3 separate regions of the Homo sapiens genome follow, and regions 1 and 2 are each linked to region 3. Evidence: fine-mapped expression QTL. A gene starts in region 3. Each other region holds a variant in brackets. All regions are shown on one strand. Distances are from middle to middle.

Evidence for each region. PIP is the estimated chance that this variant, and not a neighbour inherited with it, causes the effect.
Region 1: its variant is the best candidate, but not a certain one, in a credible set for the expression of VWF in whole blood (INTERVAL, PIP 0.82).
Region 2: its variant is the best candidate, but not a certain one, in a credible set for the expression of VWF in whole blood (TOPMed, PIP 0.57).

What each region holds. Positions count from the first base shown.
Region 1 is chr12:6,154,274-6,160,304 of GRCh38, reverse strand. The region is part of intron 1 of LOC124902866 (a long non-coding RNA gene); the gene reads left to right. Among named protein-coding and RNA genes, the nearest start is that of VWF, 33 kb to the right of the region's middle. RefSeq lists an enhancer at 715-1,288. The variant C/A (reference allele first, on the strand shown) is at 2,938.
Region 2 is chr12:6,187,810-6,195,269 of GRCh38, reverse strand. No RefSeq gene overlaps it. Among named protein-coding and RNA genes, the nearest start is that of CD9, 8.9 kb to the left of the region's middle. RefSeq lists a silencer at 1,125-1,174 and enhancers at 3,502-4,187, 4,188-4,873. The variant T/C (reference allele first, on the strand shown) is at 4,230.
Region 3 is chr12:6,122,513-6,129,625 of GRCh38, reverse strand. VWF (von Willebrand factor) reads left to right here and starts at 4,956. Exons shown (of 52, transcript NM_000552.5): 1 at 4,956-5,205; 2 at 6,430-6,484. The coding sequence starts at 6,430.

The DNA.
Region 1 (6,031 bases), 31 kb before region 3:
CACTGCTGGCTCGGGCAGCCTGCTTTTATTCTCTTATCTGCCCCCACCCACATCCTGCTGATTGGTAGAGCCGAGTGGCCTGTTTTGACGGGGTGCTGATTGGTGCGTTTACAATCCCTGAGCTAGACCCAAAGGTTCTCCTCCTCCCCACCAGATTAGCTAGATACAGAGTGTCCACACAAGGTTCTCCAAGGCCCCACCAGAGCAGCTAGATACAGAGTGTCCATTGGTGCATTCACAAACCCTGAGCTAGACACAGGGTGCTGATTGGTGTGTTTACAAACCTTGAGCTAGATACAGAGTGCCGATTGGTGTATTTACAATCCTGAGCTAGACATAAAGGTTCTCCAAGGTCCCACCAGAGTCAGGAGCCCAGCTGGTTTCACCCAGTGGATCCCGCACCTGGGCTGCAGGTGGAGCTGCCTGCCAGTCCCGCGCTGTGTGCCCGCACTCCTCAGCCCTTGGGTGGTCGATGGGACTAGGTGCCAGTGGAGCAGCGGGCGGTGCTCGTCGGGGAGGGTCCGGCCGCACAGGAGCCCACGGAAGAGGGGGGTCTCAGGCATGGCGGGCTGCAGGTCCTGAGCCCTGCCCCGCGGGGAGGCAGCTAAGACCCGGCGAGAAATCGAGCGCAGCGCCGGTGGGCCGGCACTGCTTAGGGACCCAGTACACCCTCCGCAGCTGCAGGCCCAGGTGTAAGCCCCTCGTTGCCCGGGGCCGGCAGGGCTGGCCGGCTGCTCCGAGTGCAGGGCCCGCCAAGCCCACGCCCACCCTGAACTCCAGCTGGCCCGCAAGCTCTGCGCGCAGCCCCGGTTCCCGCTCGCGCCACTCCCTCCACACCTCCCTGCAAGCTGAAGGAGCCGGCTCCGGCCTTCGCCGGCCCAGAAAGGGGCTCCCACAGTGCAGCGGTGGGCTGAAGGCCTCAAGTGCCGCCAAAGTGGGAGCCCAGGCAGAGGAGGCGCCGAGAGCGAGCAAGGGCTGTGAGGACTGCCAGCACGCTGTCACCTCTCAATATCAGGTCTCTTCTCAAGTGGCACCTGTCGCAGAGGCCCTCCGGGGCTATTCTGCATAAATACCACCCACTCTTGTCACTTGCTGTCCCCCTTACATTACTTTATTCTCTTGCTAGCCCTTATCACCATCTGATTTATATTTGCTTTCTTGTTTTTTGGCTTTTTCCCTCCATTAAGTGTAAGCTCTTTGTGTGTCTTGTCTGGCAATCTGTACCTCCACTTTCGACAGCAATGCCAGCAAGCACACAGCCGGGGCTCAGTAGACGCTTATAGGACGCTGAGTGGCGTGTGCTGGATGTGCTGCTGTGCAGAGCCCAGAAGCCAAGCTGCCCCTGCATGGCGTTCAGAGGAGGGATGGCTGGACCTGATACTCGGAGAGTGACGGGGAGGGAGTGCTTGGCCTGGGTCTGCTCAGATGGCCGCCGGGCCAGCCAGGCCATTGCTCTGACCTCAGTTCTGGAGAGTTCGGATTGGTGGCAAGGGAAAGGGCAGGAGCTGAGGAATGGATGGTTCCATTAATCATGGAACTTTGCCCAGAGGGGTCAGAGGAGTAAGGCAGGGGATAGAGGGAGAGATAGCATTAGACAGAAGGTTCTGGTGGCAGGGGAGGGGCTGGGGGGGAGAAAAGGGATCGGGGTGTGGGTTCTGGCTCAGCCTTTTCCAGACTTTGTGGCTGCTGCTGCAGTCCCAGAGTCTACTGGGGCCCCGCTGTCTGCTTCCTGGCCTGGCTGTTTGTTTATTTGGCCAGTAGTTTGGGCAGCCGTGGGCCTCTCTTGCTGACCTCCAGGGGAGGAGTTAAGTACATACTGCCTCTCAGGTGCAGCAACTAAAACCGTACAGGAAATGTTGAGGTGCCAGTCAGCAAGAGGGCCAGTCCTGGGCTTCCCCTGCCAGGGCCCCCTAGGAGCAGATACCCACCCCCACTCTTTCTCATCCCCAGCTCCTGTGGGAGTGAAGTGGGCTTCCTGTGCTTTCCAACGGAAACTTTACTTGGTTCTCTTCACAGCCAGCATTGATTCATTCTCTTAGTTGGCAAATACTTGTTAAGTACTCCATGCTACCAACGAGCTAGGAATACAGACAATCTTGGTGTAGAAAAATTCATCTTTAATGTTCATAGCCTTCCTGGTCAGCACCCATTCCTCCTCTCACTCATAGAACCTTTCCCCACATTGGGGAGAGGCTGGTTAATGGATACAAAGTTACAGCTGGCTAAGCTGAGGGGAATAAGCATTAGTGTCCTGTACCACTGTAGGGTGAAAGTAGTTAACAATAGTTTCAAGTATAGTTTCAAAAAGCTGCAAGGTAGGATTTTAAGTGTTCCCAGCACAAAGAAGTGATCGGTGTTCAAGATGTTAGATATGCTAATTACCCTGATTTGATCAATATACATCATATGCATGTATCAGAATACCACTTTGAATCCCATAAAAAATGGACAATTATCGTCAACAAAAAATAAAAGGGAAAAAACACCAAATATCTTTCCCCACATCAATTTCGTGTCCTAGGCTGGTGCTGTGTGCCTGGGAGCAGTGGTGTGTTGATCAATGTTTAACAAGTGACTCTTTGGAAGAAAAGCCATGATCTGTAGTGTCTGCCAATTTCTGTGGTGTAACTATTTCCAGCGTGTCAGATTCCATGCCACCCATGTGATGTTACTCAATGGAAAACTGGGAAGACTTCACAGTAACACACCATTATGTGTCATTTCCATCACACAGATACAGACATTGGTATGTATAACCTCAAGGGTATAGATAATAGTAAAATATAAAATAATTAGGAAGTATGAGTTTTGAGTCGTTATCTCTGTCTTAAATGTAACTTGTTTTACGATGATTATATATACTTTAGTATTTAATAATGAATGTATTTAACAACAGAGCCACAAAATTCCTGAAAATGTAAAAACTGGCTCTGCAAG[C/A]CAGGATCACTGCCTGTGAGCTTGTTGGAAATGCAGATTCTTAGGCCCCACCAGCTCTACTGAATCAGGATCTGAATTTTAACATTTTTAACAATACCCTCAGGTAATCCATATACATTATACATTTAAAAAGCATGCCCTAGGGGAAATAACTGTTTATTATTTCATTGATATCTTTTCAGAACTTTTCCACAACACAGATGTGTGTATTTTTAAAAATTTTGTTTTTAACAAAAATAAGATCACGCTGTAAATGTTTTGCAAGGTTTTGTTTTGTTTTCAACTTAGTAACATGTCTGATATCCTTCCATGTCAGTCTGTAGAGATCGCGTTATTTTTAATGTCTCTGTAGTATTTTAGGACATGAGTAAATCATGATAAAAAAAAATCATCTCTTGCTGGGCACAGTAGCTCATGCTTGTAATCCCAGCACTTTGGGAGGTTGAGATGGGTGGATCAATTGAGACAAGGAGTTTGAGACCAGCCTGTGTGACATATCAAAACCCTGTCTCTACAAAAAATACAAAAAAATAGTTGGGTGAGGTGGCTTGTGCCTGTAGTCGCAGCTGCTTGGGAGGCTTAGGGGGGAGGATCGCTTGAGTCTGAGGAGGTCTAGGCTGCCGTGAACCGTGATACTGCCACTACACTCCAGCCTGGGTGACAGTGAGACCCTGTCTCCTCCCCGCTCAAAAAACCTTCTCTGAACAAACACATATTGTTTTCCCCTTTTGCTTCAAGAAACTTTATAATTAAAAAGAAAGTTTCCTTGAACTGTCTTTGAATTTCCTTAACAAAATATACCTCAAAAAAACTTCTGAAAGCTAATTTATACCAAAGGGTTAGTGGCTGGCAATAATAGTTTTACAGCGTTTTCCTTCTTCCCCAGATTTAAACAGTTTACATTTTATCAATATTGAGATATTTTATGCATAATATTCTGAATAAGCTGCTAGGGAATAAAAAGAAGTTAGACGGGCTGGGCGTGGTGGCTCAGGCTTGTAATCTCAGCACTTCCGGAGGCTGAGGCGGGTGGATCACCTGAGGTCAGGAGTTCAAGACCAGCCTTGCCAACATGGCGAAACTCTAGTCTCTACTAAAAATGCAAAAAAATTAGCCAGGCGTGGTGGTGGGCGCCTGTAATCCCAGCTACTCGGGATGCTGAGGCAGGAGAATCGCTTGAACCCGGGAGGCGGAGGTTGCAGTGAGCCGAGATCGAGCCACTGCACTGCAGCTGGGTGATGAGCGAAACTCCGTCTCAAAAAAAAAAAAAAAAAAAGAAGTTAGACATGGGCCTGACTTTCACACGCTGACAGCCCTCCAAAGGGAATGCAATAATCATGAAATGAGGCAAATAATCATAAAATGAGGCACGACATATAGATACAGAACTGTTCCCAGCATCTGTAGTGCCATAAGAACATCGGAGAAGGGAGGGTAGAAAAACCTAAACTAGACACTGGGTGCTACCGATGACATTAGAGAAATTGATGGATAAGTGGGAAGGTGTCTGTCCTGTCCTCAAACCGCAGCAGGCAGCCTTAGGCTAAGGGCTGGTGGATGTAGGATAGGATAAAAAGAGAGCCCCAAGGGCAGTATTTCTACAGGGTGAACCTGGTACCCTTTTCTTCACAACCACCCTAAAGGGAAATTTTTCCCCCCACCCTTTTTTTTTTTTTTTTTTTGAGACGGAATCTCGCTCTTGTCACCAGGCTGGAGTGCAGTGGTGCGATCTAGGTTCACTGCAACCTCCGCCTCCCAGGTTCAAGCGATTCTCCTGCCTCAGCCTCCCGAGTAGCTGGCATTACAGGCGTGCGCCCACCACGCCCAGCTAATTTTTGTATTTTTAGTAGAGACGGAGTTTCACCAGGTTGGCCAGGATGGTCTCGATCTCTTGACCTAGTGATCCGCCCGCCTCAGCCTCCCAAAGTGTGGGAATTACAGGCATGAGCCACAGCACCCGGCCCCCACCCTTTTTTTCTCTAGCCCTAACATCTGGTTCCTTAATCTTCAGGAACCCTGATCCGCAAAGATGATAGCAGTTCTGCTTGGTTCCTGTCTGAGCCTGGATCTGGATCTGGGAGGTGCTGGCGGGGTCCTGTTCTTCCGCTCTGGTGGGAATCTGATTGTGATCAGCATTGGGCCGCATGCCAGAGACGGCTGCAGTCCTGTGCCTGGCCTGGCCGGCCTCGGTGCTACCCGCCACCCCTCACGTCTTCCCTTCTGGCTCCTTGTACGTCACTGGTCAGTCCGCGAACCCTGACTCTCCATCAGTGAGCTGTGTGGCACTGGGCAAGCCTCTGCCCTTCTCTACTTCCCAGGGTACAGAGTGAGCTTCCACCTTTTGGCTTGATTCTCCTTCACATCTTGCCCACCCAGGCTTCTGACCGAATCTAGCAGCTCAAGTCAAATTCAGCTGGAAATTGGCTGCTGAAGAAGCTGTCTTTCACCCTCTATAACTGAGGACTTACTGTTCCTAACTGTTGCTAAGTGGGGGCTGTTTTCTTTGAGGGAGTTTTTTCTTCTTTAGCAATTTTATATATAAAATAACAAATGCAAAGTATGTATTATGAGACATGCTAACAAAATGAACATCTGTGAACCCACTACCCCATCTAAGAATTAGAACATTATCAACAGGGTTGTATGTGCCTATGTGTTCTTTCCTGTTCTGTATGCCTGTCTCCCTTGAAGAGATAGCTATTACCCTGAGTTTTGGTGTTTGTTATTTCCTTGCTTTAAAAAAGTAGCTTCATCGGCCGGGCGTGATCCCAGCGCTTTGGGAGGCTGAGGCGGGTGGATCACCTGAGGTCAGGAGTTTGAGACCAGCCTGACCAACATGGTGAAACCCCATCTCTACTAAAAATACAAAATTAGCTGGGTGTGGTGGCATGCGCCTGTAATCCCAGCTACTGAGGAGGCTGAGGCAGGAGAATCACCTGAACCCGGGAGGCGGAGTTTGCAGTGAGCCAAGATCACGCCATTGTATTCTAGCCTGGGCGACAAGAGTGAAACTCTGTCTCAAAAAAAAAAAAAAAAAAAAGCTTCATCACATATGTTTGTATCTACAAACTTTACTTGTTTACTTTTGCTTGTT
Region 2 (7,460 bases), 65 kb before region 3:
CCAAGAGCCTGCAGATTTTTTTTTTTTGAGACCAAGTCTCGCTCTGTTGCCCAGGCTGGAGTGCAGTGGCTCAATCTCGGCTCACTACAACCTCCATCCCTGGGCTCAAGAGACTCTCTTGCCTCAGCCTCCCAAGCAGATTGAATTACAGGTGTGCGCTGCCATGCCCGGCTAATAATTTTTTTTTTTTTAGACGGAGTCTCGCTTTGTCACCCAGGCTGGAGTGCAGTGGCACGATCTTGGCTCACTGCAACCTCTGCCTCCCGGGTTCAAGTGATTCTTCTGCCTCAGCCTCCCAAGTAGCTGGGACTACAGGCGCACACCACCATGCCCAGCTAATTTTTGTATTTTTAGTAGAGACGGGGTTTCACCATATTGGCCAGGCTGGTCTTGAACTCCTGAATTCGTTATCTACCCACCTCAGCCTCCCAAAGTGCTGGGATTACAGGCGTAAGCCACCGTGTTTTTTATATTTTTTATATTTTTTATATTTTTAGTAGAGATGGGGTTTCCTCCTGTTGGTCAGGCTGGTCTTGAACTCCTGGCCCCAGGTGATCCGCCCACCTCAGCCTCCCAAAGTGCTGGGATTACAGGCGTGCGCCACCGTGCCTGGCCCGTTTCCACTTCTAACGGCCCTCCAAATAGGCCCACGTTCCAATCCCCAAAACTGTGAATGTGTTACTTTCCATGGCATAGCCTGGACCATCCCAGTGGGCCCAGTGGAATCCAAAGGGTTCTTATAAGAGACAGGTGGAAGTGTCAAAGCCAGGGAAGGAGATGTGACGACAGAAGCAGAGGTCGCAGTGATGCACAGCTGTGTGTTGGGGAACAAGGACAGCCTCTAGAAGCTGGAGAAGGCGAAGAAACGAATTCTCCCCTGCAGCTGCCAGAGGGATCCAACACAGCCCTGCCCACCCATTTTAGATTTCAGACCTCTAGAATTGTGAAATAGTAAATATGTGTTACTTTAAGCCACTAAATTTGTGGTTGTTACCGAAGCAATAGGAAATATAGTAATCTCAATGTAAACATCAAGATCAGAATTCATAATCTCCAAGGGCTTTCTAGGCTCGCAGCTGACTTTCTCCTCAGCCCTCCCTGTCTCTAATCAGTCAGCACCAACACCTCCCATCACCTGGGGCTCCTCCTTCCCCCAGCCTCACAGCTGCTTAGTGAATGTGATTCCTGTTTCTTAGCTGTTCTTACGTCATTGCTGGGAGGCACCAGGGCTAAGGCGGGTTGTAGTGATTGAGTGGCAGAGCACAGATCAGACCTCAGAGCTTCTGGTTTCAGTCCAGGGTTGGATCCTGATCTTTTGTTCCCCCTGATGCCCTGCCATCCGCAAGGGGGCTGCATCCTGGAAGCTCATCTGCAGCCCAAACGGCTGTTCTACCCTTGCCCTGCCTCGCTGCTGTTCACCTGCCCAGGATGGACACAACATTGGACCCAGAGAGTCTTGCTGCGTGCGTCCTTGGGGGTGGGCTGCCCTCCTCTCACCCATCACTTCTTTTCCTTGCATTAAGCACACACACACTCAACCTGGAAACTGCCTATGTCCAGTGTGGATTTTATGAAGGTTTCACGGATAGGTGGATGAGGGGTTCCCTCTCATATGCCAGAGAGAACCATTCTAAGAATCCCTCTGGATAGCTCTTCTCAAACGTCCAATCTGTGGCAGCCACCCCTATCATCTGCCCCCCAGCCCAGCCTCAGCCAGCCCCCTGCCCTGTGGATGTCCTCTGCATATGTCTGTGTGGAGCAATTTAGCTCTAAACTTGGCATTTTCCGTTTGTGTCCCCACCTCCCCTCACCCTGCTCAGCAAAACAAATCATGGCTCTCAGGGTCTGTCCTCCTTAGTATATGGGGGTTGGGGGCAGGCGGGGAGCAATTCTAAACAAGCAATATTTAATATCATCCTTTCATCAGACTCCTGAAGCTCAGCTTTACTCTTTCCTGCTCAAAGATCTCCCAACTCCCCTTACCCCTGTTCTACTTCCAAACAATGCTCCCATAGCATTTACCTTCTCACAGAGTGGAATGTTTCCTTGGTATGTGCATTGCTATTTACCTGTCTCCTCCAGCTAGAATGCAAAATCCGCATGGCTGTTCTGTTCTCTATGTATCCCAAGGGCTTTGAACAGTGCCTGACATACAGTAGGTGCACAATATTTATTGAATGTATGGAAAGCCGATGTCTCAATTGTAAGATCATCATACAGGCCCTCTGCTCTCTCGCCTTAACCTCTGTTTGCAAATCTGTTCACTCTTTTGGAATACCACATGCATCCCCAGCTCTATGCCTGGGTCCCCACCTCTTCTTTCCGAAGCCCAAGCTCTTGGCACTTCCTCCTTTCTGCCCTTCAAGCAGCCTGCACCATCTCTGAGGCCAGCCCAGCCCCTGCCTTCCCCAGCACCCTCAGTCATCTTAGTCTGCTCTGATCCTCTTTCTCAGGACACTCCTGTAGCAACTTCTTTCTGAATCATCCACTAGACTCTTACAAGATTTGTCCTGGGTGATAATTTCAGGTTTCATGCATCTGTTTAAAAGAGTTGGCTGGGCGGCCGGGCGCGGTGGCTCACGCCTATCATCTCAGCACTGTGGGAGGCTGAGGCGGGCGGATCACGAGGTCAGGAGATCGAGATCATCCTGGCTAACACAGTGAAACCCTGTCTCTACTAAAAATACAAAAAATTAGCCAGGCGTGGTGGCGGGCGCCTGTAGTCCCAGCTACTAGGGAGGCTGAGGCAGGAGAATGGCGTGAACCCGGGAGGCAGAGCTTGCAGTGAGCTGAGATCACACCGCTGCACTCCAGCCTGGGCGACAGAGCGAGACTCCGTCTCAGAAAAAAAAAAAAAAAAAAGATTAGCTGAGCGTGGTGGCAGGTGCCTGTAATCCCAGCTACTCAGGAGGCTGAGGCAGGAGAATCGCCTGAACCCAGGAAGCGGAGGTTGCAGTGAGCTGAGACTGCGCCACTGCACTCCAGCCTGGTGAGAGTGAGACTCCGTCTAAAAAAAAAAAGATTAGCTGGGCATGATGGCGGGTGTGGGGAAAAGAGAGATCAGATTGTTACTGTGTCTATGTAGAAAGAAGTAGACATAGGAGACTCCATTTTGTTCTGTACTAAGAAAAATTCTTCTGCCTTGAGATGCTGTTAATCTCAATGTCAAACTCAGGGTTAAATGGATTAAGGGCGGTGCAAGATGTGCTTTGTTAAACAGATGCTTGAAGGCAGCATGCTCCTTAAGAGTCATCACCACTCCCTAATCTCAAGTACCCAGGGACACAAACACTGCGGAAGGCCACAGGGACCTCTGCCTAGGAAAGCCAGGTGTTGTCCAAGGTTTCTCCCCATGTGACAGTCTGAAATATGGCCTCGTGGGAAGGGAAAGACCTGACTGTCCCCCAGCCCGACACCCGTAAAGGGTCTGTGCTGAGGAGGATTAGTAAAAGAGGAAGGAACACCTTTCTGCAGTTGAGACAAGAGGAAGGTGGGCAATGGAATGTCTCGGTGTAAAACCCGATTGTATATTCCATCTACTGAGATAGGGGAAAACCGCCTTAGGGCTGGAGGTGGGACATGCGGGCAGCAATACTGCTCTGTAAGGCATTGAGATGTTTATGTGTATGCATATCTAAAGCACAGCACTTAATTCTTTACCTTGTTCATGATGCAGAGACCTTTGTTCACGTGTTTATCTGCTGACCTTCTCTCCACTATTATCCTATGACCCTGACACATCCCCCTCTCCGAGAAACACCCAAGAATGATCAATAAATACTAAGGGAACTCAGAGGCTGGCGGGATCCTCCGTATGCTGAACGCTGGTCCCCTTGAGAGGTGACAGCGTGCTGGCAGTCCTCACAGCCCTCGCTCACTCTGGGGGCCTCCTCTGCCTGGGCTCCCACTTTGGCGGCATTTGAGGAGCCCTTCAGCCCGCCGCTGCACTATGGGAGCCCCTTTCTGGGCTGGCCAAGGCCGGAGCCGGCTCCTTCAGCTTGCAGGGAGGTGTGGAGGGAGAGGCGCGAGCGGGAACCGGGGCTGTGAGCGGCGCTTGCGGGCCAGCTGGAGTTCCAGGTGGGCGTGGGCTTGGCGGGCCCCGCACTCAGAGCAGCCGGCCCGCCCTGCGGGCCCCGGGCAATGAGGGGCTTAGCACCCGGGCCGGCGGCTGCGGAGGGTGTACTGGGTCTCCCAGCAGTGCTGGCCCACCCGCGCTGCGCTCGATTTCT[T/C]ACTGGGCCTTAGCTGCCTTCTCGCGGCGCAGGGCTCGGGACCTGCAGCCCACCATGCCTGAGCCTCCCACCCACTCCGTGGGCTCCTGTGCGGCCGAGCCTCCCCGATGAGCGCCGCCCCCTGCTCCACGGTGCCAAGTCCCATCAACCACCCAAGGGCTGAGGAGTGTGGGCGCAGGGCGCGGCACTGGCAGGTAGCTCCACCTGCAGCGCTGGTGCGGGATCCACTGGGTGAAGCCAGCTGGGGTCCTGAGTCTGGTGGGGATGTGGAGAACCTTTATGTCTAGCTCAGGGATTGTAAATACACCAATCGGTACTCTGTATCTGGCTCAAGGTTTGTAAACACACCAATCAGCACCCTGTGTCTAGCTCAGGATTTGTGAATGCACCAATTGACACTCTGTATCTAGCTGCTCTGGTGGGGCCTTGGAGAACCTTTGTGTCGATACTCTGTATCTAACTAATCTGGTGGGGAGGAGGAGAACCTTTGTGTCTAGCTCAGGGATTGTAAACGCACCAATCAGCGCCCTGTCAAAACAGACCACTGGGCTCTACCAATCAGCAGGACGTGGGTGGGGCCAGATAAGAGAATAAAAGCAGGCTGCGTGAGCCAGCAGTAGCAACCCGCTCGGGTCTCCTTTCACGTGGTGGAAGCTTTGTTCTTTCACGCTTTGGGTCTGCACTGCTTTTATGAGCAGTAACACTCACCACGAAGGTCTGCAGCTTCACTCCTGAAGCCAGTGAGACTATGAGCCCACTGGGAGAAACGAATAACTCCTAGACTTGCTGCCTTAAGAGCTGTAACACTCAACGCGAAGGTCTGCAGTTTCACTCCTTAAGCCAGCAAGACCACAAACCCACCAGAAGGAAGAAACTCCAAACACATCTGAACGTCAGAAAAAACAAACTTCAGACGCGCCACCTTAAGAGTTGTAACACTCACCTCACCGCGAGGGTCCGTGGCTTCATTCTTGAAGTCAGTGAGACCAAGGACCTACCAATTCCAGACACACCCTGGGCCCCCTTTTTTTCTTTCTCTACACTTTGTCTCTGTGTCTCTTTTCCAAGTCTCGTTCCACCTAATGAGAAGTGCCCACAGGTGTGGAGGAGCAACCCATCCCTTCAGGCAGGTGCCTGTAATCCCAGCTACTCAGGAGGCTGACGCAGGAGAATTGCCTAAACCCAGGAAGCGGAGGTTGCAGTGAGCTGAGATGGTGCTATTGCATTCCAGCCTGGGCGACACAGCAAGACTCCTTCCCCATAAATAAATACTCTCCAGCTAGATTACCAGCTCCTGTTGTACCCACAGTAGGTACCTTCCAGACACTTAATGTAGTAGGTCTGAAGAACTAACACTTGCATGGGTACATAAGATGTAACTAATGCTGTTCTAACTGCTGTATATAAACTCAATCCACAAACAACCCTTTGAGGTTGATAGTTTTACAAATGGGGAAGCCAAGTCACAGGCGGTTCATGCTCTTGTTAGGAAGCAGCAGAGCCGGGATGTAAACCCAGGTGGCCTGGTTCCAGAGCCCAGGTGCTAAGCTGCTGCTTCCTGTGGTAGGTAAATGTGGACTGGCACTACACTGCCGTTTTTGCCCTTTGACTGTAGAGGTGGGTGAAGGGGCTGCAGATGACTCCTCAGCAGTTGTGCCATCTTGAAGGTGCCTCCCTGCAAGGCGACTCTGAGTCTTAGGGCTGCTGACAGGTGGTGAGCCTGCAATTGGGTCCTGCCTTTGCTGGTGCTTGTCTGTTCCTCTGAGGCTCGCTTTCCACAGCTGCAGAGCGAGGATGATTACTGCTCTTTCTCCACCATGAGGGGTGGGGATGGGCGGGTATGTGCCCAGGCAGCCTGCCCCTGGCTCAGTGGTAGGCAATGCCAGCCCATGGGTAGCAGCTGCAGCTTCTCTTCACTCTGTGGCTGCTGGCTTCTGTTCTGGTTGGTGGTTCTGGCTTCAGGTGGAGGAGCAGGGACTCTGGGGGCTATGTATTTGTGGTATTTCCTGCGTAAGAGGGTAGAGAAGCTGTAGGCAATTAGCATGGGGCTTGAAATTAGAAGTCACAGGTGCAAGCCCTACTGCATACTTACCTGGGAGCAGAGATGACCTGAGCAAGTCTCTGCTTTTCTGAGACTCCATTTCGTTATCCACAAAATGGGCTTAGTAAAAACTCCTACTTTGCTGTTGTAAGAGAGTCAGATGAAATCCTGGATGTGTAAGTGCTTTGTAAACTATAAGGGTGCTTATAAACTTGATTTTCAATTTTAATCTCAGTACAGGAGTAGTGGACTTGGTTGTTATAAAATGCTAAATAGCCCCAAGGCTTGGAGTCTTGGAGAATGTTGGCAAGATGAGCATTTTCAGCTCTGTCTTCTGAGTGTCTTTGCCCAGCATGCTAGGTCCTGTTCACCCCACATTTACTGAGCACCTGAGTGCTAGGCTGTGGGAGGTGCCCAGGATAAGCCACGCCCTAGTTTTGCTCATGAGAAACTCACCTCCTAACTGGTGATATAGGATGTGGTGGACGCCAATCATTAGATGGTAACAAGGCGAGGAAGAGTTAGGGAAGTGAGGAGTTGCAGGGGTCCAGATATCTGAGAGCAGGACTGACCAGGCAGCCGTAGCAAGACACAGGTGGGGACAGGGCAGTGCTGGGGGCCACTGGGCTCAGCTCTATGCCTGCTTCCCATTTCCACACAGCTTAGCCTAAGCTGGTCCTGAGAAGGTTTTATTCATATCAAAGGGCAAACGAAGTTGCTGAATCTATCTTGCTGACAGTTTCTTTGTGTCTCATATAATGTTTGGCTGATGCTCCTGAAACTATAAGCACCCAGAGGCAGGGTCGCTGTCTCTCCCAGCTGTATCTGGGGTGGGTTGGACAAAGGTCCCCCTAGAGGGCCAGTGTGTGTGTGCACACGTGTCTGCATGTGTGTCTGTGTATAAGAGATGGGACTTTCGTCTGTAGGTTCAGGTAGATATGGGCAGGTAAAATACAGTGAAGGTAAGAAGCTGTCACTAATGTCTACCTGTGGCCTGTGGGAAGGGTTTAGAGAGAGGGAGAATATGGCCATGGAGTCACTGCCTAAAGACAAAGGAAGTCTGAACCTCATTGTGTGGCACGGGCCTTTGTAAACCAGCCTCTGCTGACGTCCAGCACCTGATTTCCCACTCTGGCACCTTATATGCTCTAGCTGGTTTTATTTGTTTATTTTTGAGACAGGGTCTCACT
Region 3 (7,113 bases):
CTCTTGAACATTGCTGGATTGTGTGCCTTTTTAAAGAAATCCAATTTGATAATCTCTACCTTTTTATTATTGATTATTGATCTGTTTGAATTTTTTGTACTGTTGCATTTACATTTTATACTATTTGTCTTGCTTTTTCCATTTTTCTCCTAGATCAATCTAGTTTTTAAAAATTTCTTGTTTTTTTTCGATAGGTTTGGAAAACATACATTCAATTCTATTCTTTCAGTAGCCTCCCTTAAAATCTTACTATGCAGTATAGCCTTAACTAAGTCTAAAGTGATCATGACCTGTTTCTTCCTTCTGAGCCATGCAAGGACCTTAATACACTTTCACTCCTGTCTTACATGTCATTGCTATCTGGTATTTTGGTTCTAATTTTTAATAACTCTCCAACTTATCATTACCATTGTTATTGTTTTATATAATGACTGCCTGCTCATATTTACCCCCAGATTTACTATTTTATTTATTTACCTTTTCTTGGCATCCTGTTTCTAGGCTGAATTTTCTTCTTCCTGGCAGGGCGAGGTGGCTCACACCTGTAATCCCAGCACTTTGAGAGGCCGAAGCAGGAAGACTGCTTGAGCCCAGGAGCTCTAGGAGTTTGAGACCAGCCTAGGTAACATGGCAAAACCCTGTCTCTACAAAAAAATACAAAAATTAGCCAGGTATGGTGGTACATGCCCATAGTCCCAGCTACTAGGGAGGCTGAGGTGGGAGGATCGCTTGAGCCCAGAAGGTTTAGGCTGCAGTGAGTTGTGACTGTGTCACTGCGCTCCACCCTGGGTGACAGAGACCCTGTCTCAGAAACAATAACAAAAAATGTTTTTTCTCCCTGAAATTCCTTCTTTAGTAGTTTCTTCAGAAAGGACTGTTAATGTTAAGCCCACTCTGTTTTTCCAAAAAAAAAAAAAAAAAAAAAGTCTATGTTTCCTCAACTCTGAACAATAATTTACAGGTAGACCAGATGTTACAGTCCCTCTGCCACGGCCCTCTAACCCCATCTCTCCGTTTCTTCTAGACTACCAGTGTCTGCTCCTCCGTGCCTGAGGGCCAGAAGTGTTGAGGGCTGAATGCCTCCTGAAGCAGCCTTGACAATAACTGACAGGAAGGAGTAAGTGTAGAAACTCTCCTGCTCCCTGACCCAAGAGTGGGAAGATTCAGAGGCATGGATCTTACATTTTCCCAGACTTCCCTCCAGAAGGAAGCTTTCTTGTCCACTTGGTGGCTGGCATAATAAACATCTTTTATTGACTGCTTTCCCTGCCCCGTATCACATTCCCACTTCCCTGCCGATGCTTCCTGTCCTCCCAAATCAATTATCTACACTAAAATACTCAGGGTCTGCTTCTGGGACTTCAAACTAAGACACTGCATATAGAATTCTCCACAAATGGACTTCTTCTCTCAGCACTTCTCTTTGGATCTTCTAATTCTATCATGTTTCTTAATTCTGCCTCCATTTTTTTTTTTTTTTTTTTTTTTTTTTGAGATGGAGTCTCACTCTGTCACCCAGGCCAAAGTGCAGTGGTGTGATCTTGGCTCACTGCAACCTCTGCCTCCTGGGTTCAAGCAATCCTCCTGCCCCAGCCTCTTGAATAGCTGGAATTACAGGCATGCACCACCATGCAAGGCTAATAGTTGTATTTTTAGTAGAGATGGGATTTCAACACGTTGGCCAGGCTGGTCTCGAACTCCTGACCACAAGTGATCTGCCTTACTTGGGCTCCCAAAGTGCTGGGATTACAGGCATAAGCCACTGTGCCTGGCTGCTCTTCCATTTTTTCATCTCTATATTTGAGTGATTTCTTTAGAACCATTTTTCAGCTTTTTTTTTCCCAAAAATATCTGGTGTTTTTGAATTTTTCAATTAATTTACTATATACATTTCTTAAAGTTCTTTTTTTTTTTTTTTGGGACAGTATCTCACTCTATTGGCTAGGCTGGAGTGCGCGATTATGGCTCACTGCAACCTCAACCTCCTGGGCTCAAGGGGTCCTCCCTCCTACCTCAGCCTCCTGAGTAGCTGTGACCACAGGCATGCACCGCCAGGCCCAGCTAATTTTTTATTTTTATTTTTTGTAGAGATGGGGTCTTGCTGTGTTGTGTAGGCTAGTCTCAAATTACTGAGCACAGACAATCCTCTTGCCTCTGCCTCCCAAAGTGTTAGGATTACAGGTGTGAGCCTCCACGTCTGGCCTTAAAGTTCTTTTTCAAGTTTTCCTCCTGTTCTTTCTTTTTTTTTTTTTTTTAACGGACTCTCACTCGGTCACCAGGCTGGAGTGCTGTGGCATGATCTTGGCTCACTGCAGCCTCCGCTTCCCGGGTTCAAGCGATTCTCCTGCCTCAGCCTCCAGAGTAGCTGGGACTACAGGTGCGTGCCACCATGCCCAGCTGATTTTTGTATTTTTAGTAGAGATGGGGTTTCACCATATTGGCCAGGATGGTCTTGATCTGTTGACCTTGTGATCCACCCACCGTGAGCCACCGTGCCCTGCCTTGAAAAAAGTTTATTCTTTGTAAAGACAGGGTCTTGCTGTGTTGCCCAGGCTGGTCTTGAACTCCTGGTCTCAAGCGATTATCCCATCTCAGCCTCCCAAAGTGCCAGGATTATAGACATGAACCACCGTGCCTAGCCTCTATTATAATTTTAAACACTCATTTTTTTCTTTTTATCTTTCTCTGATGATTTTATTATCTGAAATTCTTAGGGATTTAATTCTTGCTCATGGTAGATTGTTTTCTCAAGTGTTGAAAAATTTGTGATTTTGAATTCATCGTCAAGAGAGCTTTATTTGCATGAGTGCAAAGGATGAAAATTCTAGACTGGGCGTGGTGGCTCACGCCTGTAATCCCAGCACTTTGGGAGACCGAGGTGGGCAGATCACGAGGTCAGGAGTTTGAGACCAGCCTGGCTAACATAGTGGAACCCCATCTCTACTAAAAATACAAAAAATTAGCTGGGTGTAGTGGTGTGTGCATGTAATCCCAGCTACTTGGGAGGCTGAGGCAGGAGAATTGCTTGAAGCCGGGAGGCAGAGGTTGCAGTGAGCCATGATTGCATCACTGCACTCCAGCCCAGCGGACAGTGCGAGACTCCATCTCAAAAAAAAAAAAAGAAAGAAAAGAATATTCTAAAAAAAGACTTAATTCCCCCCGCCACCCCACCCCAAAACAAGTGGAGACAGGCAAACTTCCTTATCTTCTAGGTTGGGGGATGGATTTTTTTCCTGGTCCACTGTTTGGAAGATGTTTCCCTTCAAACTTTCAGCTTTTGCAGGGATCTCCGTTCTAGTTCTCCCTCTGGGTCAGGCCCGTAGCTGCACTGCCCATTCTTGTAATGTGCGGCCTCCAGTCTGGAGGGTTCCCAGACTGGCCTACGCTAGGCCACCCATGGGCCTACCCTGCCTCATGCTCATTTAGGCTCCTCTTCCTCATTGACCCTTTAAGATATTCCTTACTTTCCTCCCAGATCAACTGTGGATTTAAAGAACATTTGTTGTATTTAGCACAGCATTTAAAGATATTTTGTAATGAAAGGGTTTTCAGATTAGTTATTTAGTTTTTTTAAATAAGAGCTGGAAGTGGAAATCCCGATGGCCTTTTCTTTTCTTTTCTTTTTTTTCTTGAGACGGAGTCTTGCTCTGTCACCCAGGCTGGAGTGCAGTGGCTCGATCTCAGCTCACTGCAAGCTCCGCCTCCCGGGTTCACGCCATTCTCCTGCCTCAGCCTCCCGAGTAGCTGGGACTACAGGCGCCCGCCACCACGCCTGGCTAATTTTTTGTGTTTTTAGTAGAGACGGGGTTTCACTATGTTAGCCAGGATGGTCTTGATCCCTTGACCTCGTGATCCGCCCACCTCGGCCTCCCAAAGTGCTGGGATTACAGGCGTGAACCACCGTGCCCGGCCCCCCAATGGCCTTTTCTACTGTCTCATGCTGATTCTGCCTCTGGTGCCATTTTTCTTCCTTGGGAGTGTGCATCTTCCTCTCCTGGGGCGGTAAAGGGAGTAGCAGAGTGCGAGGTATGTGGGAAGGGAGGAGGTTGGAACCTAGTGGTTTCTCAAAGTCTTAGGGCAGGAGGTATCATGGAGAAGCAGTGAGGAGGTCTTCCATACCCAGACATGCCTCAGGGTGCTTGTCTCAGTGCCTGGAATCCCAGCACGAGAGTCATCTTCCCCCCACCGCTGCCCATTGCATCAGTTACTTATTTTAGTAGGAATTAGTTTAGCAGATGGTGTTGAGAATTAGGCTTTTGGGAATGGGAGGCTGGGAAGAAGAATTGTGTGTGTGTGTGTGTGTGTGTGTGTGTGTGTGTGTGTGTAAGATCAGGGTACCAGAAGTGGGTGGAAATGTCCTTGAGAATTAGAATTATTAGAATGTAGCAACAGTAGAAGTATTAGACTCAAACCATCACTCCCCACCTTCACCATTTTACAAAGGCTTAGGCTTGTGGCCAAGACCTTCATCTTTAGCCGATCCATTCAACCCTGGCCAGGATCCAAATGGACTGTTTTTGTCAGGGCCAGGACCGGATCCTTCATACCTGGGGTGCATAGGAAGTGTTAGTACTCCCCTTCCTCCAAACACAGCAGCAAAATTGGCTCAGGTTGAGGTGTTTTTCTCAACTTCCCTGGAGTCCAGCCCTGGAAGCTGGATCAGGAAGCTGTGTTGTTCTACTGTGATTCCCCCTGGCCTGTATCAGCTTGCCCTGAAACAACCAGCATTCCTGGTTATCCCACACAGGTGGGGCACTCTAGGAAGACCAGGGATCAAGTGTGGGGGTGTAGGGATAGGGGGTGTTTGGGGAGGGCAAGGCAGTTAATTAAGGCAGCTGCCAGGAGGTCTCCCTCCAAACTCTACAAAGCTTTATCAGCTTGGAGGTACTTCTAATACCATTTCCTTTCATTGTTTCCTTTTGGTAATTAAAAGGAGGCCAATCCCCTGTTGTGGCAGCTCACAGCTATTGTGGTGGGAAAGGGAGGGTGGTTGGTGGATGTCACAGCTTGGGCTTTATCTCCCCCAGCAGTGGGGACTCCACAGCCCCTGGGCTACATAACAGCAAGACAGTCCGGAGCTGTAGCAGACCTGATTGAGCCTTTGCAGCAGCTGAGAGCATGGCCTAGGGTGGGCGGCACCATTGTCCAGCAGCTGAGTTTCCCAGGGACCTTGGAGATAGCCGCAGCCCTCATTTGCAGGGGAAGGTATGGCCTTTGGAAGGAGAGCTGGCTCAGTTGTGGGAGGAAGATGCAGGACTGACTGATCCCTGCTCCTGGGGAGCTGGAGTTCTCTGTCGCTGGACTAGAAGGGCTTTGTTTGGAGGGGCAATTCAATTCAGCCAGGGATGATCCTAATACTCCCTCCTCCACTTGCCTCTGAGGGTCCTGGGGCTGCTTTTCTTCATGCAGTGGGTTTTACTGTTTGATAGTACTTCACTCAAATGAGTTGGAATGAAGTTTGCCCTCACCTCTGAGAACCTGGGAGCAGCTGAATGTACCTGCGTGTTAGGACTGGGAGGGGACACCTGCTTGGAGACCGAGACCTGGCAGTATCTGACATCTCAGTGTTCCTTCCACAGATGTATCACAGATTGGCTTGATTTCACCTTTGGCTGGATGGGACCTTAGGTAGGAAGGGAGTCACCCCCAGTGAATCTCAGGCAGCAGATTCTGCACTTCATTTAACAACTTTTCCCGAGGAGAGGGGCTACAGCAGGGGCTCTAAGTGACTTGGGGTACGCTCTGCCAGCCAGGATGAATTGTCCCTCTCTTGGGGGTCACACAGTGGGGAAGTCTGCCTGCATCCAGGGCCGCTGGACTCCTGTCCATTTTTTCAGATGAACTCAGCAAACATTTGCTGGGCATCTCCTGGGTGCTAAGCATCTTGCCAGGTGCTGGGGTTGGAGGCAAGGGAGACAGCCTTTGCTCTTGTGAAGGCACTTGTGGTACAGAGTCAGGGGCCAACAAGCAAACCGTCAAGTTGGTGGTTCCTGAGCATTCTCTATGTCTGGGCTGCTGTGGTGGGCACACAAGTGTAAGACGGTTCCTACTCGCCAGTTTGGATGCAGAGGCAGGAAGGAATGAGGTGTGTGTTAGCTCCCAGCTGCTTCAGGAGGCAGGGATGTGAGGCCCAGCGGGCCTGGAGGGAAGGCAGCGTTTTCCTCCTGTCTTGGGCCTGGGACTGCTGTCTGTGGAAAGGTGCCCACAGGTCCCAGCTCACAGCGATTGTTACCCTTGGGCCTGGCACTGGCCAGGGGTTTTTTCGGGGGCCAGAAGTCCATGTTCAAAGGGGAAAAGGGGGTCACGAGGATCAATCTTTTCTCCTGCTTTAAAGAAATGTTTTTGCTACTGCATGCCCTGATAGTCGCCACACCAGCAGCCGCCTACCTGGGCAGCAATGACCAGCTCACGTCTCTTGCTTCTTTGCAGATGATTCCTGCCAGATTTGCCGGGGTGCTGCTTGCTCTGGCCCTCATTTTGCCAGGTAGGTACAAAAGGGCCTCCATTTCTCATTCCTGCCCCAGGGCCATCTGGAGTGACACCTTTCCGGGAATCAGCAGGTGTGTCTGGAGCTCACCTGTGTGCCCAGCCCTAACTTAGGCTGTTGGTTGCCTCCTGTGAAGGTTCTGCGGAGTTCCCACCCTTGACTTGTATTCCAGAGACCAGGTGCCTGCAAATGCCATCTCCTGTTGGGGAATTAAGAAGCATAAAGGTGGCACAGAACTGTCCTATATTATGGGGGCACAGGATGAGGAGGAAGGAATCCAAGACTTGGATGGATTATTAGTTTTCGATAAGATTGTGGAGGTCACCTTGTTGAACCTCCCATGGTACAATGAAGAGACTGAGGGTCAGAGAGGAGAAATGACTGCTCCAAAGTCTCCTAGAGCCAAAATCAGAGGTCAGTCTTCCTGGGTTCCAGGCCAACACCCTTTCCACTGCACTGCATCATACTGCTGCCCTTCCCTTGCTAAGATTCTGGGTCTGCAAATGGCGGGAGGGGACTTTTGACCTTGGGCGCTTTCCACTTAGATCTCTCAGGTCAGCAGCATCCAGCTACTGCCCACAGGTGAGTCTGGGAAAAAAAATACACATTTGTCACACTCTCTGCAT